2 linked regions of the Homo sapiens genome follow. The protein of the gene in region 1 purifies or fractionates together with the protein of each later gene. This does not show direct contact. Each region holds a gene or a part of one and is shown on either strand. Other genes may lie near its edges.

Region 1 (9,580 bases):
CTTCAAGGTATTTGACAAATATGGTCCTGGATTCCTTTTCAATTTTAATCCATTACTTTCTTCTGTGAACTGTTGCCTTATACTCTTAGCAAACTATCCCACAGAACTCTCTTATCCAATTTAACTGACATCACACCATTAGGCTATTCTCCAATGTGATGGGAACAACACTTCTGGTTCCCCCTCTGTGAAGTGTGCTTATCAATGGTGACAGTGTGTTTATTCACAAACCTATTTATGCCAGTTGTGCTTATTACTGAAAGTACGTAAATACTATGTAAAGCAATGAAGTATAAATGAGAAGAGAAAAATGACAGCAGCAATTAACACTGAGTACTTACTACCTGCCAGGCACTGTTCTAAATGCTTTACATGAATTAACTCCTATAATATTCACAAGAAACCTAGAAATGGATACTACCATTATGCCTGTTTTACAAAGGCAAAAACTGAGTAACTTGTCTATGGCCTATACAACTAATAAGTGGCAAAGCAATTTGGCTCCAGAGCTCAAGTACTTAACTACTGTACTACATAGACTCTCTAGTAGTTATTTCTAAAACACCACACTGAATGCTTTCGAAAGACCAGATAAAAGTGAGCACACAAGGCCGGGTGCGTTGGCCCACGCCTCTAATCCTAGCACTTTGGGAGGCCAAGGCGGGTGGATCACCTGAGGTCGGGAGTTCCAGACCAGCCTGACCAACATGGAGAAACCCCGTCTCTACTAAAAATACAAAATTAGCCGGGCATGGTGGCACATGCCTGTAATCCCAGCTACTCGGGAGGGTGAGGCTGGAGAATCGCTTGAACCCGGGAGGTGGAGGTTGTGGTGAGCCGAGATTGTGCCATTGCATTCAAGCCTGGGCAACAAGAGCGAAACTCTGTCTCAAAAAAAAAAAAAAAAGTGAGCATACAGATAACACATAAACTTGCTGTTAGGTGTGGGAGACAACAGAAAAGTCTGGAAGGACATTTCATAAACACCTAGAAAGATTCTGCAGTGAGACTGCTTTGCAAGTGACTTTAAGTATTCATTCCATGTTAAAAATACCATAGATAACGTAGGCCAGGGGCTAGCAAGCTCTTTCTATAAAGGGCCAAAAGTAAACATTTTAGATGTTGCAGGCCATGTGGTTTCTGTTGCAATCACAAATATTCAATTCTGCCTTGGAGGGTAAGAGGAGTCATAGACAATACATAAACAAATGAGAAAGGCTGTGTTCTAATAAAGCTTTACTTATAAAAACAGGCAACAGGGTCCTACACTCCAAGAAAAGGCTGAGGCCTTATGTTAAAAGAATGGCAAAAGAATGTTTATGTGTTCGTTAAAATGTTATGCATATAACTATTATCTGTATGATTCCCTGCTTTAACTTACTTCTTCAGTTAACCAACTAATGGCCCTAAGTCTGCTTTCAGTGACTGAGTGAACGGAATGTTATAGATCCCCTAGAACCTGCATTTAATTCATATTCCTATCATTATGCCTGATATAACTTGGTTATAACTTTAAACTACTAATTTTAAAATGCATGCATCATTACAGATTAGTATGGGTATACTCGTATATAAAGACTGTCATCTCTGTTGCAAAATTGCTGATAATTTGAAAATAATTATTAAAATTGCTGCTTCCCTGAGGGAGTAAGGGGAGTGGAGGGTGGAGAAAAAAAATTGCTGCTTCCTGGCCAATCTTCTGGGGGTTGACAATATATTTTATGAGTATTCTAAAAGTTGTATACTTAAGCAAAACAAATAAACAAAAATGCTTACTTTAAACTTGAGATCAAGGTTGTGCCTTACTTACCTTTGTATCCCCAGCAGTTACTCAGTAGAAGTCCAGGTCTAATCCACTCATTTTACAGTGCTTAGGGAGCCTGGCCCAAACTCAGAGTGAGTTATAAGGGCTGGGACAGGAATTCAGATTTCCTGATTCCTAGTCCAGTATTACCAATCTGAAGATACACGAATTTAGGAAGACAGTGGCTTTCTTTTTTTTTTTTTTTAGGTGCACCCAGTCCTGCAGTTCAAAGCCTGGCAAGACTCACCATCATCTTCCTCCTCCTCATACTGCTAATGAGAATCAGCAGCTGTGTTTCTACAGTGATAATCTGCGTATGCATGTTCGTGATGTTCCAATCACCAAAAAGGCTATTGATTTTAGGATTCCTGAGTACCTACAAAAGCTACTTAAACATCCAGGATAAAATCAGCTCCACCCAAGAATACAAGATAAGAGTTCAAATATTCCCTTGGCCATTTTTTTTTTTTAAAGAAAAGGCTGGAAGGACATGTCATAAACACCTAGAAAGATTCTGCAGTGAGACTGCTTTGCAAGTGACTTTAAGTATTCATTCCATGTTAAAAATACCATAGATAATGTAAGCCAGGGGCTAGCAAGCTCTTTCTGTTAAACATTTAGATGTTTCAGTGCTGCAATCACAGTGACCGGTGTTGGGGAGAGGGATTAGAAAGTGCCATGGTACTTAATCCAGTTACTCCCCCAACACCTCCAAGAGGTAGCCAAGTTCACACACTAAACAGAGCTACTGCAACAGTTCTAGTGCTAGTCCTTAGATTCTAGTTCCAGTTCCGGTTCTAGTGCTTAGATTCCAGTTGCATCATTCCAACTGTGAGCCTTCGCTGCTTTAACATCTTTGCCAGGAGGTGCAAAGTTCTCTGGGAGGGAGCTACCAATCATTTCATTTCAATTTCATACTGACAGATTGAAACATTCACGTAAGGGACACCTGTAGTACCAACCTGACTGTGAGGGGAAGCCCAAGAACTCCAGTGAGTCTGTGGACGCTACGCTGGGACACTATCTCCTTAGCCACACCTTGTCTAAGCCAGGACTACCCCAGGATTGTTTCGAGAATGATACCAGGTTAACCAAAGAAATACTTATGTAAGATACAGATAGGGTGGAAACTGGAGGCAGAGGAGTCCGCCACAATTGATGTTGATTTAGGGCTGTCGCAGGAAGACCCAGGGAAACCCACGCCAAAGTTGGGGTGGGGATGTGTCTGCCTCCAAAGTATCCTCCTTTCCATCACCCACCGCCAGAATATCTTAGCTCTTCTGCACCTCATCCGCGTAGAATACAGGTGGACTCTAGAAAGGGGACTTTCCTCGAGGTGTATGCTACAGTCTTTCAATAGTCACTCTGTAAGGGCACACAGTGCTTAAGGGCTGATAAGGTTCTTGTTCACCCACTAGCTCACTATGTCCTGAATCAAAGGACGAGGAATCCAGTCTCAGTCTGCCCTTTACTCTTTGTGACCTCGGACTAGTCACCCGGGTGCTTAGTTCCTTCGTCTCCCTATCTGTAAATTCTGAGATTACGAGGAGGCCGGGATTGAAATCCATGGCCTCTGAGCTCTAAAATCTTCTGGACCAGCAGGCACATGGAAGAACTGGACAAATGGCCGGTTGCATACACGGGGAAACTGAGGCACCGAGCACCCCGGCCCAAGGTCACTCTGGCTATGCCACTGCAGGGGCCGGGCCGAAGCCCCAGTCTTTAACCCTCCAGTCCCGAGCTCTTTCTCCTTCCGCGGAGCTGAGGAAAGCGGCGAGGAAGGTCCTTGTCCCGCTGGGAAAAGGACGGTACCCATGCACAGGGGTGCGAAAGAGGGGCCGAGAGAAGCCTTACCTTTCCAGGTCAAGTCCAGCCACTAGCACCTCTCTCTCCGAATCTTAACCCGTCACCCCCTCACGACTCTTCGAACGGCCCCTCCACTTCTACCCGGCTCGACGTGTCCACCACCGCCACCGAGGCCGAGGATTTCCCGCCCCCTCCCGCCCCCTAGCATTACCGACCAATCCCTGCAAGGGGCTGTGAAGCTCCGCCCCGCTGCGGGCTGGAGAGGCCTGACGTCACTCGGCGCTCGTGCCCGCGCGAGCCTCTCATTTGCCTTTGCCCCACCTTCTCCAGAGCCCAGTCTACTTTCGGTCCAGAGACCGTGCTGGAGTTCGCCCTGCCGGAAAGCAGCACGCCGCCGCGGCATTTTACGACGTCGGCGGTGACAGGCCCTGGGACTCTGGGAATACCCAGCTTCCTCCCCGCAACCCGGTGAAAGCCAACGCAATGTTCGGTGCGGGGGACGAGGACGACACCGATTTCCTCTCGCCGAGCGGCGGGTGAGTGACTGAGAAGTATGCGCTGGAGGGCGTGGCTGAGAGATACCGGCGGATTGTTGGAGGGGGGTCGATCTCTTCTCAGGCCTTTTCCCAACTTCCGGGGGGAGACCCTTGCCACATTCCGGTGCTCTACACCTCTCAGAATCTGGGCAGAACTTGCAACTGTGCTGACCCTGCCGATCTGAGGTTCGGGACCCGGCATCTCTCTTGGCGGGAAGATAGCCCTGGGTTTGCCTTTTGCATTCTGGGTCACAATTTCTCCGGTGAAATGGGAATGATTGCTGATGAGACTTCCTGCCTCAGAATTTTTATAGGAGTCAGCTGGGGCTGATGTGAGACTTCTTTTCTCCATGGAGAAGGCGAAGACACTTTAGAACCAGGCCTTGGTGGGTCAGCTCTAGCATTCTTCAAGGCCCAGCTCGGATGTCACGTTTTGGATGCTTTTCCTTCTGCAACCTCAGGCAGAATGAATTGCTTTCTCTTCCTTATTCCTGCAGCTAGGTGTGTTTGCCTCTATTCTTATACCCCGCACCTATTAGATTATGAGTCCTCACCGGACAGGGACTGCTTATGGTGTTCATTTCTGTCTAGCATGCAGCATGGTACCTAGCACATAGTGAGTGCTCAGGAAGTGGCTGTTGAATGAATAATAGCTGCGAAATTGCACTTTGTAAAGCTTAAAGCTTAAAACCAACGTAACAGACTTCTGTCATTCTCCAGTTTCCCCAAGCATTATATTAATATATACCAGCCTGGAATAGAAATCTTTAAAGAGAGGAAGGGTTTTGTCTCTTTTAGTAGTCAGTTTAGCCTTTTCCATTGTGTTGTGCCAGTGGACAGCTTGACTTCCTCCAAACTTGTGAGCTACCAAGCTCTGATCATTGCAGAGCTTTTCTTTGAACATATGCTTAACAAATTTTGTGCGTGCTGAAGAATGTACTGGAAAAATGACAAATGCACCACATATGCCCCTTATTCTGCTAAATGCTAAGAGGTTACAAAAATGATTAAACTGCTGTGCCTGCCCTTAAGTTGCTTCCAGATCTGTTGGGCCATGTGGTTTCTATTGCAACCACAAATACTCAGTTCTGCCTTGTAGGGTGAGAGTAGTCATAGACAATACATAAACAAATGAGTTAATAGATGAATGACCATAAAATGACACTGGCCTTCTTTTGTCCTTAAGTAGGAATTTTTGATTTACACTGACTAGCTCTATATTACCTACCTTTTAGTCTTTTTCACTCTCACCACTCTGTTCCCTTCCTACCCCGTCTTTAGATGGCCTGCATTCACTTAGTTCCACTTTGAGTTCTTTCCGTTTCTCAGTTATTTTACAGTTAAGCTGTGCTTTTGTTCCTTTTTTCCCTATTCCACTTTAAATTCGCATTCTTCACTATGTGAAAGTATTTGGGAGAAGTCTGTAATGTTAGGGCTCCCAATTTTCATGCAACAATCAGTCCAAGCTGACTGAAAATTATGGGATAGGTAATGACAGCCATGTGCTCTTTTCCAGATTCCTGGCCAGAGATAAATTCTTGGTGGCTCAACTATTCTTTTTTCCTGAGCAGGCTTCTCAAGGATCTGAGACACTTGAATTCTAGGCATGTGACTGTGCTCCTAGACATAGACAACAGCTAATTTGATGGTAAAAGACATACTGAGGAAAGTTATAGTTTATTTTTGTTCCCCACAGTTATCAGGAAAACCAAATCAAATTTAACACTGAGAATACAGAAAGTTTCACCACAATTCTCTGATTTAGCTATTCCTTTTTTGGTTTTCTCTAAGGAAGTAGAACATATGACAGTGAATACTGCAGCTACTTTTCACTTCCTCTTTTATAGCCATATATTACTGTAAGTATACTTGCTTAAGTTCCAAGTCTCTTGATTTAAACACATGATTTGCTTGATTTCATGAAGGATATTCAAGCCTAATAGAAGTAGGAGTATCTGATAATCTGCCTTCTGAGTTTCTAGGCCTCTTAGAGTTTACTATTAATCTAGAAGTAGTAATCAGGAGCCTTGTTTTTGTTTGTTAGTTTGTTTTAGCCCATTCCTCACCGTTGTGGGAAGTAATAGTAATGAACTAATAGTACTTGGCTTCAGCTAATCCAGATAGGAATAAGGCACAGTTTCTGCCCCTAAGAAACTTTTATTTTAGTAGTAGAATAAAATCAATCCAGGAATAATAATCACAAAGCATTTTTAAGGGGCCAATTATGTATATATTTGTTTTAGATTATAAAGGTATGTGTAGGCAGATCCGATTAGCATAGTAATGATAAATCACCAGTCTAAAGATGGTAGAAAGATAAATTAACCGATCATCAGAAAGCATTTTGAGTTCTGTAAAAGATAGGAAAAAGCCTAGATTCAAATGTTGATTCTATCCCCAGTTAGGAATGTGACTTTGGACAGATTATCTTCCATCCTTGTCCCTCCATACCCCAACCTATTCAATAATGAGGTTTGACCTAGATAAACTTTGAGACCTTTGCCAGTTCTGTAGTTTTAATGTTAATGCTAATACCAGTTTATGGTTGCAGGTCAACTTCCGTGTCAATCAAGCATGCTTTCACCCTTGCAGGGGTATCTGAGTTGAACCACATTTTGAGATAATAGGATGTGTTCACAAGTATATAAATACGTACTCTGTGCTTACTTAATGCCATACACTGTTCTAAGAAATACATAGACATTATTGTATTTATTCCTCCCTTCTACTCTATGAAATAATTTTACCTACTATGCCCATTTTACAAATGAGAAATGTATATATATATATATATATATATATATATATATATAATTGTATTTACTCCTCTCTATGAGGTACTATTAATTATTATATCCGTTTTACAAATGGGAAAGGCTCAGAGAGGTAAATTGCCCAAGATCATGCAGCTAGAAAGTAATAGAGCCTGGATCTGAAATCAGGTAGGCAGATTCTACCAGACCTGCCTATGTGCTATTGTTGTTATTATTGAAATGGATGTTTGATGTCAGTTTGTTTAAAAAAGTATTAATACTTTACCAACAAAAAGAATCTCTGTTTATTAAAATACATTGATACAGTATAAATGCATGTGTTTTTGTTTTTGATGAGAAAGAAAATATAAAACTGAGGTGAGGTGAGGTCCTTGGCGACTAAATGCATTGTCTAACATTTTTTTTTAATGTAGTTAATTCTGTCATGACTTTTCCTATGAATTATAAATATAGATTCAAGTCCAGAGTTAGCAAGCTCATTCTTGCCAACATAGGGAGATTGTGTACATTTGAGAGTTCCTTAGTAGTGGAAAAATCTAAAAATTTATTTATTTTTGTTTATTTATTTATTTTTTTGAGACAGGGTTTTTCTCTGTTGCCCAGGCTGGAGTGCACTGGTGCAGTCATGGCTCACTGCAGCTTCGAACTCCTGGGCTCAAGCAATCCACTTGCCTCAGTCTCCCAAGTAGCTGGGATTACAGGCGCATGCCACCACGCCTGGCTAATTTTTAATTTTTTGTAAAGATGGGTTCTTGCTATATTGCTCAGGCTAGTCTTGAACTCCTGGCCTCAAGCAGTCCTCCTGTCTCAGCCTCTGAGAGTGAGCCACCATGCCCTGCTAAAAATTTACAAGTAACTTATCTCCCAAGTTGATGCAGAGTCCATTAAAGATATTAATAGAAAATGGGACTGTGCGTGGTGGTTCACGCTTGTAATCCCAGCACTTTGGGAGGCCAACGCAGGTGGATCATGAGGTCAGGAGTTCGAGACCAGCCTGGCCAACACAATGAAACCCCGTCTCTACAAACATACAAAAATTAACTGGGTGTGGTGGCAGGTGCCTATAATCCCAGCTACGTGGGAGGCTGAGGTAGGAGAATCGCTTGAATCTGGGAGGCAGAGGTTGCAGTGAGCCAAGGTCGTGCCACTGCACTCCAGCCTGGGTGACAAAGCAAGACTCCGTCTCATTAAAAAAAAAAAAAAAAAAAAAAAAAACTGGGCGTGGTGGCTCACACCTGTAATCCCAGCACTTTGGGAGGCTGAGGCAGGTGGATCACCTGAGGTCAGGAGTGCAAGACCAGCCTGGCCAATGTGGTGAAACCCCATCTCTACTAAAAATACAAAAATTAGCCAGGCCTGGTGGCGGGCACCTGTAATCTCGGGTGCTCAGGAGGCTGAGGCAGGAGAATCGCTTGAAGCCTGGAGGTGGAGGTTGCACAGCCGAGATCCTGCCATTGCACTCCAGCCTGGACGCCAAGAGCAAAATTCCGTCTCAAAAAAAAAAAAAAAAAAGAAAATGGAATTAATCTGAAAACTAATTAGGTTGACCTGGCTTTTGGATCGACTTTGTAGTCTTCAGTTGGCTGGTCTTTAGAACATCTATGGAAACACAGTTCACTTATGACACTCTTGTCTTTCCTTTTAAAAAGGCTATACCTGCAAAATTAAAACAGCAAGCCCAATACTCATGGTTTACTGAAGCTAACAAGGACATTCATTTCTTATCAGTAATCTGTGCATAAGCTATGTTATCTTAACTAGGTGCTAAGCTTTGTACATTTTTCACTGTGTTAAAGATAGTGAAACCCAACTCTTCCAGAATCTTATTCTTTAGGCAATTTGCCCGAATTTTCCTGCCTGAAAGGACAAATCTTGCTGTCTTCTAAATTCCATAAGCATTTGGTGATGTCTTTTTAGGCCAGCGCTGCTCTCACTCAAGCATTGCGTTTACAATCTCATTTAAACCTCTTAGTCCTTTACAGTAGGCATTTCTGGCCTATTTACAGGAAACTTAAACTTACATTAGACTACTTTGAGAAAAGAAGGTAATAGTTTCAAGTCATATAAAATTTATTTTGTAAAATGCTAGTGCATATTTCTCTATACATAAAACTTGTTTTAAAAAAACCTGAAAAGCCAAAATAACTTGTTGGGAAGTTTCAATGTTTACTTCACCTAAACTAAGGATGCCTTTGGAGAAGAAGTGCTCAGAGCCAGACTAGACTTTGAATTCATTTACTGAGCCTGTTACATACCAGACACTGGGCATACCCCCTTTTTTTTTTTTTCGGTTTGCTTTATTGTGCCTTGCAGATTTTTTTTTTTTTTTTTTTCACAAAATAAAGGTTGTGTCCAACCCCGTGTTGAGTGAGTCTATTGGCATCATTTTGCCAACAGCAAAATTCCTCCCTTCGTGTCTCCGTGTCACATTTTGGTAATTCTCTTAATATTCAAAAATATTCTCTTGGTCAGTTGCAATGGCTCACACCTATAATCCCAGCATTTTGGGAGGCTGAGGCGGGTGGATCACTTGAGGCCAGGAGTTTGCAACCAGCCTGGCCAACATAGCAAAACCCTGTTTCTACTAAAAAATACAGAAATTAGCAGGGCATGGTGATGCACGCCTGTAATCCTAGCAATTTGGGAGGCTGAGGCATGTG
Region 2 (7,000 bases), on another chromosome or scaffold:
AGGCTTACCCTATCAAAGCAGAATTTCTTTAGTTGCATTTCTTACAGTTTTTAGGTAGGTTGTTTTTGACAGCTGTTGAAAAATTATACTCTAGTATCTCAATTTATGTGATTTACTTTCCATAGCTAAAAATCCCCGCAGTCACCAGAGTTTTATTTGGTTTAGATCCAATACATAACCAGCTACGTGAGCTGTCTCCCCACAAGTTTATACCTACATCCTTGAATTTCAGAGAGCATTAGCTTCCGTTTAAAAAAAAGTTATAATGAATTATATAGTACATATTCCAGTAAATTAATATGCTGTTAGAAGACCAGCAGTCATAGTGATAATATTTTGTCTGTGGTATGTTGTGGATTTTACAGAGTATTTTTACATATTTTATCATTTAAACCTTACAGAATTAGAGTAAGAGAAATAGACCAAAAGAACTGTTTCCATTTTGTTCATGTCTCTTACGGGTTTAACGAGTTACCCAATGTCATTTAGAACTTAACTCTTAAATTTTATTTCAGTACTGTTACAGCTGTAAATTTCAAGTCACATATATCTAGTAAGCAATACTTCTAAACAACATTAACTATAGAGGGAAAACTGCAAAGAGGACGATATTAAAAGATAGGTAATAGGAATTCATATTTTTAGGAAGTACAATTTGAAGGACTTACAATTATCTCTAATTTATATTTTATTTTTCCACAGTGGGTAAGTGTCAGAATGGTAAAAATGCTCCAAATCTAAATAATAAACCACAATTCATTAAACTAAAGTAAAATGGAATAGAAGTACATAATTCATAAAAGTTCTAATATTTTGATAGAGTTAATAATGAAGATTCTGAATATATATCCGTAGTCACTAAGGATTTTTTTTTTTTTTTTTTTTTTTTGAGACAGGATCTCATGCTGTCACCCAGGCTGGAGTGCAGTGACATTATCACGGTTCACTGCAGCCTGGACCTCCTAGGCTCAATCGATTCTCCCACCTCAGCCTACTGTGTAGCTGGGAATACAGGCACATCCACCATGCCTGGCTAATTTTTGTATTTTTTGTAGAGATGGTGTTTTGCCATGTTGCCGGCACTGGTCTTCAATTCTGGGCTCAGACAGTCCACCCACCTCACCCTCCCAGAGTGCTGTGATTACAGGCATGAGCCACCATGTCCAGCCTAAGGTCTTCTTTTTAAAACTTTGACTATATTATGATTTCCAGAGATTTACAAAAATGCATTAAAGATAGGGTATTTGGTAAATAGAGATAGAAATAGATTTTAATTACCCTTTGTCAGTCAAATACAGATCCCTATTCTTAAGCATATTCTTATACAATATCTCATTATTTTAAAGGACCCCAAGTGTGACCAGACCATATTTAAAATGAGATGAAATATATAAGAGGTACTGATGTTGTGATTTGTAAAACATCACAATTAATATGAGCTTTTTTTTAGTGTCATGTTTTTAAGTTGGAAATCTTTTCAATTTATAAGATAGCTAGATAAAATATGGATATGTAGTCAGCACTCTGTATCCATAGATTATATATCCCCAGATTCAACCAACTGCAGGTCAAAAATATTCAAGAAAAAAAAAAAAACAACACAATAATAAAAAAAAAAACTGAACTATAAAATATAGCAACTATTTACATAGCATTTACATTATTGTATTGGGTATTATAAATAATCTAGAGATGATTTAAAGATATGGGAGGATATGCATAGGTTATATGCAAATGCTATACCTTTTTATATCAGGGACTTGAGCATCAGCGGATTTTGGTATCCACAGGGGTCCTGGAACCAATCTGCAGATACTGAGGGATGACTATAATTTACTTCTTTTATTTATTGTGTTCTTTCCCTTTACAAGGAAATGCCATTATTTTTTCCAGCGTAAACTTAAATAATAGTAAATTTGTACCAATATTGCCTCTTTCCTTTTTATTTTTATTTTTTGAGACAAGAGTTTTCCTCTGTTGCTCAGGCTGGAGTGCAGTGGTGCAATCTCAGCTCATTGCATCCTCCACCTCCCATGTTCAAGTGATTCTTCTGCCTCAGCCACCCAAGTAGCTGGGATCACAGGCATGCTCCACCACACCTACCTAATTTTTGTTATTTTTGGTAGAGATGGGGTTTCGCCATGTTGGCCAGGCACGTCTCAAATTCCTGGCCTCAAGTGATCCGCCTGCCTCGGCCTCTCAAAGTGTTGGGATGACAGGTGTGAGCCAGCATGCCTGGCCCCTCCCCCCCGCCTTTTTTTTAAGTATCTATAGCATATACATGTTCACATAGAGAAATAAGAGAGGCCAGATATAACTAGATCTGGGAACTGGGCAAAGTCTAAGGTAACAAATCTTTTCTTGCTTACCTGACCTTCCAGGTGTGAGATGCAGATAAAGGGCTTCCACATCCCCAGTATCTCAAACATAAAGGATCAGACATCTAACAGTCTCTCCTTCAGGTTCCCTCTGATTCAAGTCATCTGTGTTTCTAAATGGCCGTTGAATTGATTTCTCTAAGCTTGCCTACCCTGTGTGAGTGAAGAACCTGACATATAATATTTGCTCATTATTTATCAAAGAATAGGATATGAAATTTTTTTTGATAGAGAAAGTTGAGAGCCAGTTTATGAAAAGGCAATTTTTGTACAACTGTTTATCAGTGTTGATTCAAAAGGCAGAGTTGAAGCTTAAAGAAGTATATTAGTCCTTTGGCTGTAATGCGTGTTTTCTCACTTTAGGCAACAGAAGCAGCAGTATACTAACCAGCTTGCCAAAGAAACAGATAAGTACATTAAAGAGTTTGGATCTCTGCCCACCACCCCCAGTGAACAGGTATCAAGCTTTAAGACACATTGTTGATGTATTGAATGTGAAAAAAACCCAGTGCACTGTAGGATCTTTGAACTGTTACGCTAGAAAGGAAATTATGCTAGAAAGGAAATCAAAAATAATTCTGTTTGAGATTAGTTCACAGAACACAAAACTATATTTAATTGCTCAGGTAGTATCCTGTGGTTCAATAAAGCAAAAATTATTTCCATGCATTTGCCCTGACCCATAATTAAGTTAGTTCTCAGAAAATGCTTCCTGAGTAATTATTTCCTGGCCTTCCGGGGCTGACTGCGTGGAACATGCAGGCTCATTCAAGATGTGAGGTGTCCTGGGGGCACATATTTATTTCCCTGCTTATTTAATGGAAGTTATTACTTAGCTAAAAGTATAAGGCTTTATTTGCCTGAAAAAGAATTACTTTAAAATAGCCTCAAAATAATAAGCTAGTTTTTAGCAGCGTGAAAACCTGAGGTGAGAAATCCAGCATAATGGGTCTTTTGCCTCAAGTTAAATATGCACAGTATTTGACATACTATCAGAATGTTACTGAGAGTTAATCTGTAAGGCCCTGTAATTGGGGAGTAAGTGAAAACTTCAGGGTTAAATAAAGAGCCAACTACCGCAAATTCAGTTGAACTTCACAGCTAGATTCTAGTTGGCTTTTTCTTCTCTTTCCTCTAGCGTCAAAGGAAAATACAGAAGGATCGCTTAGTGGCAGAGTTCACAACATCACTGACAAACTTCCAGAAGGTCCAGAGGCAGGCTGCTGAGCGAGAGAAAGAGTTTGTTGCTCGAGTAAGAGCCAGTTCCAGAGTGTCTGTAAGTATTTTAAAAGACATTCTAGAAATGAACATGGTTACTTGCTAAGGGTCCCATAAAAGTCTATAGTAGCATAATTTTTTAAGTCATAAAGATCTGTGAATATCTTGGAAATCAGCTCTTGAATATTTATTTTTATGCTTTCCTGCTCCATTTTTAGAAAAGGATGATAATTTTGTATTACGGTGGTGATTTTTTGTGTCATAGTACAGAAGATTACAGAGTATATAAAAATATAGAGACATATTTTGTCAAAAAAGATTAGGGATCAAATCCTGAGTAGTATTCTCACATCGTCTTGGTACTGAGGCTTTCTGCTTGTGTACACGCTAGTGTAGAAAGCACTTTCCTCCTGGATTACACCAAGATGACGGAGATGAATGGCGCAAGTATGTTGTATCAATATTGAAAATGAACATGAGCCTGGAGAAAATAAATGAAAGGAAGCTTTACAATAGAATTTTGAATTAATCTAATTTTAAATTCCCTTAGAAACTATCATGAGTTATTTTCTTATTCATTAACATATGGATTCCAAGACTACATTAAGCTTTAACTAAATAATACTTATTTGATCCTTGAGAATATTTAGTGAATTCCTTTCTTGTCTACTTAGAATATAAAATTACTTATAATTATATTATTACTTGAAGCAGTTGACCTGAAAAATTAGAACAAGAACTTCTTTCTCTCTGTCTCTACACACACACACACATACACACAGACACGTACATAAATCAGTTTAGTTTATTATAAGGGAAAATATGAGTGTTTATTTTTTCTCATTTTTGCTTTTTTTGCCCCTTCTCATTCCATCCTGTTACTAAATTATTCAGGGCAGTTTTCCTGAGGACAGCTCAAAAGAAAGGAATCTTGTATCCTGGGAAAGGTAAGAAATACAAAACATTTTACAGATCAAAAGGTAATTTTTCAAAGTTTATACATTAAGGTCCCTGGAACAGAATTAAAGCTTTCAATATATTATATCATAAATATCCTAAGTTGTTTATATGTTGAAAACAGAGTAAATTTGAAAAAAATTTTAAGTAATTATAAAGTATTTATTACAAAATATATAAAGTTTTCCAAATAAATGTTTATGGACTTAATTATTAATATAGACATTCCCTTATATGAGGTTTAAATCAGCTGAGAAGAAATACCCAGTTGACAGATACAGCTTCCAATAATTAAGTAATAACTCTAAACTCACATTAGCTAAAATGATATAAGTGAAATGAAAAATGAATAAATTTTATTAATATATCTGTTATATTCTTAGAATTTTTTTGAGTAGTTCTGTGACTTTGGAGAATAAAATATCCTATTTAATGAATATATCTTAAATAGGAAATGAGTCCCATTGTTTTGAATACCAATCTTTGTTTTTTTCCACATTCATTTTTTTCTGTTAGCCAAACTCAACCTCAAGTGCAGGTGCAGGATGAAGAAATTACAGAGGATGACCTCCGTCTTATTCATGAGAGAGAATCTTCTATCAGGCAACTTGAAGTAAGGCTTACATTGTAGACTTGGGCTGCTGCTCTGGTCTTAGTGAGTTTGTTCTCAAGATGCTTAGGTAATGCTGGGAGAATGCATGAGACAGAAAAATTTTGTTTTCTTTTTGAGACAGTCTCCCTCTGTCACCCAGGCTGGAGTGCGGTGGTGGAATCTCGGCTCACTGCAACCTCCGCCTCCCAGCTTCAAGCGATTCTTGTGCCTCAGCTTGCTGAGTAGCTGGGATTACAGGCACGTGTCACCCCACCTGGCTAATTTTTTGTACTTTTAGCAGAGAAAGGGTTTCACCATGTTGGCCAGGCTGTTCTCAAACTCCTGGTCTCAAGTGATCTGCCTGCCTTGGCCTCCTAAAGTACTAGGATTATAGATGTGAGCCACCATGTCTGGCCCAGAGAAAGAAAATTAATGTATCAGTTTGGTAGCATTTGTAATGTATGAGTTGGAATAATTCCTTTTTTAAAAAAATAATATTGTCCTTACTGTTTGTGCTAGGACGAGGGATCATACTCCCTCCTACTGCAGCTTTTTAAAAATTATTATTGTTATATCAAGCCATCTATGGACCACCTTAGTATTGAGAAAATACCAGTGTAGAGATAAATGTCTGTCCAAGAGTCTGGATGTCTTCCCAGAGCACATGATACACATCATACCTGCATGAGTAAGACCTTTTATAAGGCCTTCAAAGAATTTTATTTCTCTTTACTATGTTTATGACATCAAAGAGATCTAAAGGATTTATTAAGTCATAGTTCTTATGGAACCTACTTAGTTCCTAGAAAGAAGGCTAATAATAGCTAACAATGGCTACAATTTATTGAAGACCTTCCATGTGCCAGGCACTTGTGGGATGAATTCTTTATGTTAATTATCTCATTTAGTCCTTATAAAAACTTTATGAAGCAGTTAATTGTGTCATTGAAGAAAAGTAAATTTATATTTAATCACCAAGTTTATAACTTCTTTATTCAGTAGTGACATTTCACTAATCCACTGCATGTTCAAATTATTAATGTGAGACTTTAAATTTACACCTAATGTTTTATTACTTTAAATTGTCAAATTGATGTGTAAATTTTACTAGAAATACATGCTAAGAATATTTTATACCCTTGTAAGTAGATACTGCTTGTGATAACAAAACTATCAGGTTGTATAAAATGAACTCAGCAATCCATGGCTCTTCTCTATTATAGATCCTTCATTTCCATTCATTTCCATCCTGCCTCGCTCACTTGGTATTTTTAATGCCACAAACTGATTTTAGAGAACTGGTGGCTATTGTTCAAATTCTTCTTAATTATTGTCAAATATTTTCCTGATATTTCCAAAGTTTATGTATTATATTTGTGTATTATAGATGCATGCTCACCCATGTGTGAGTAGTGGTTTGGGTTTTTAAAATTTTTCCTCTTTTATGGAATGGGGACTGAATTTCTGATTATAATAATATATGCGTTTTCTCTTAGGCTGATATTATGGATATTAATGAAATATTTAAAGATTTGGGAATGATGATTCATGAACAAGGAGATGTAATAGGTAAGACCTGCTGACTTAGATTTTGGAGGTGAGAGCAAGCTACATGCACTTTACCTGCTGTAACTTTCTCACAGAAGAGTAACCACTTTCTGTCCCTTTTTTGGTTTCCCTGGAACCAAAAGCATGGTCTATAAAACACAGTAAGCATCACCCTTGGCATTATCTAAAACAGATCTCATTTTTAACTCGTGCTGGTTGAAATAACCAGCTTCATTTATTTCAGAAGCCCAAATTTAATCAGGGCCTATTGCTGCCAAGACCATGGAAGGCACCATGAAACATTATT

The links.
Region 2: the proteins of SLC31A1 (region 1) and STX7 purify together in Homo sapiens (affinity purification with mass spectrometry; 5 studies listed by BioGRID and IntAct, with this or other methods). This does not show direct contact.

What each region holds. Positions count from the first base shown.
Region 1 is NC_000009.12:113,215,757-113,225,336, reverse strand, and holds the start of SLC31A1 (high affinity copper uptake protein 1), read right to left. Parts: upstream 3,794-9,580; 5' UTR 3,659-3,793; intron 1-3,658. Other genes in the region: FKBP15 (FK506-binding protein 15), read left to right, coding at 4,094-4,146.
Region 2 is NC_000006.12:132,468,117-132,475,116, reverse strand, and holds part of STX7 (syntaxin-7), read left to right. Parts: intron 1-2,741; coding exon 2,742-2,835; intron 2,836-3,516; coding exon 3,517-3,654; intron 3,655-4,490; coding exon 4,491-4,543; intron 4,544-5,069; coding exon 5,070-5,166; intron 5,167-6,641; coding exon 6,642-6,714; intron 6,715-7,000. UniProt on the Homo sapiens protein: May be involved in protein trafficking from the plasma membrane to the early endosome (EE) as well as in homotypic fusion of endocytic organelles. Mediates the endocytic trafficking from early endosomes to late endosomes and lysosomes.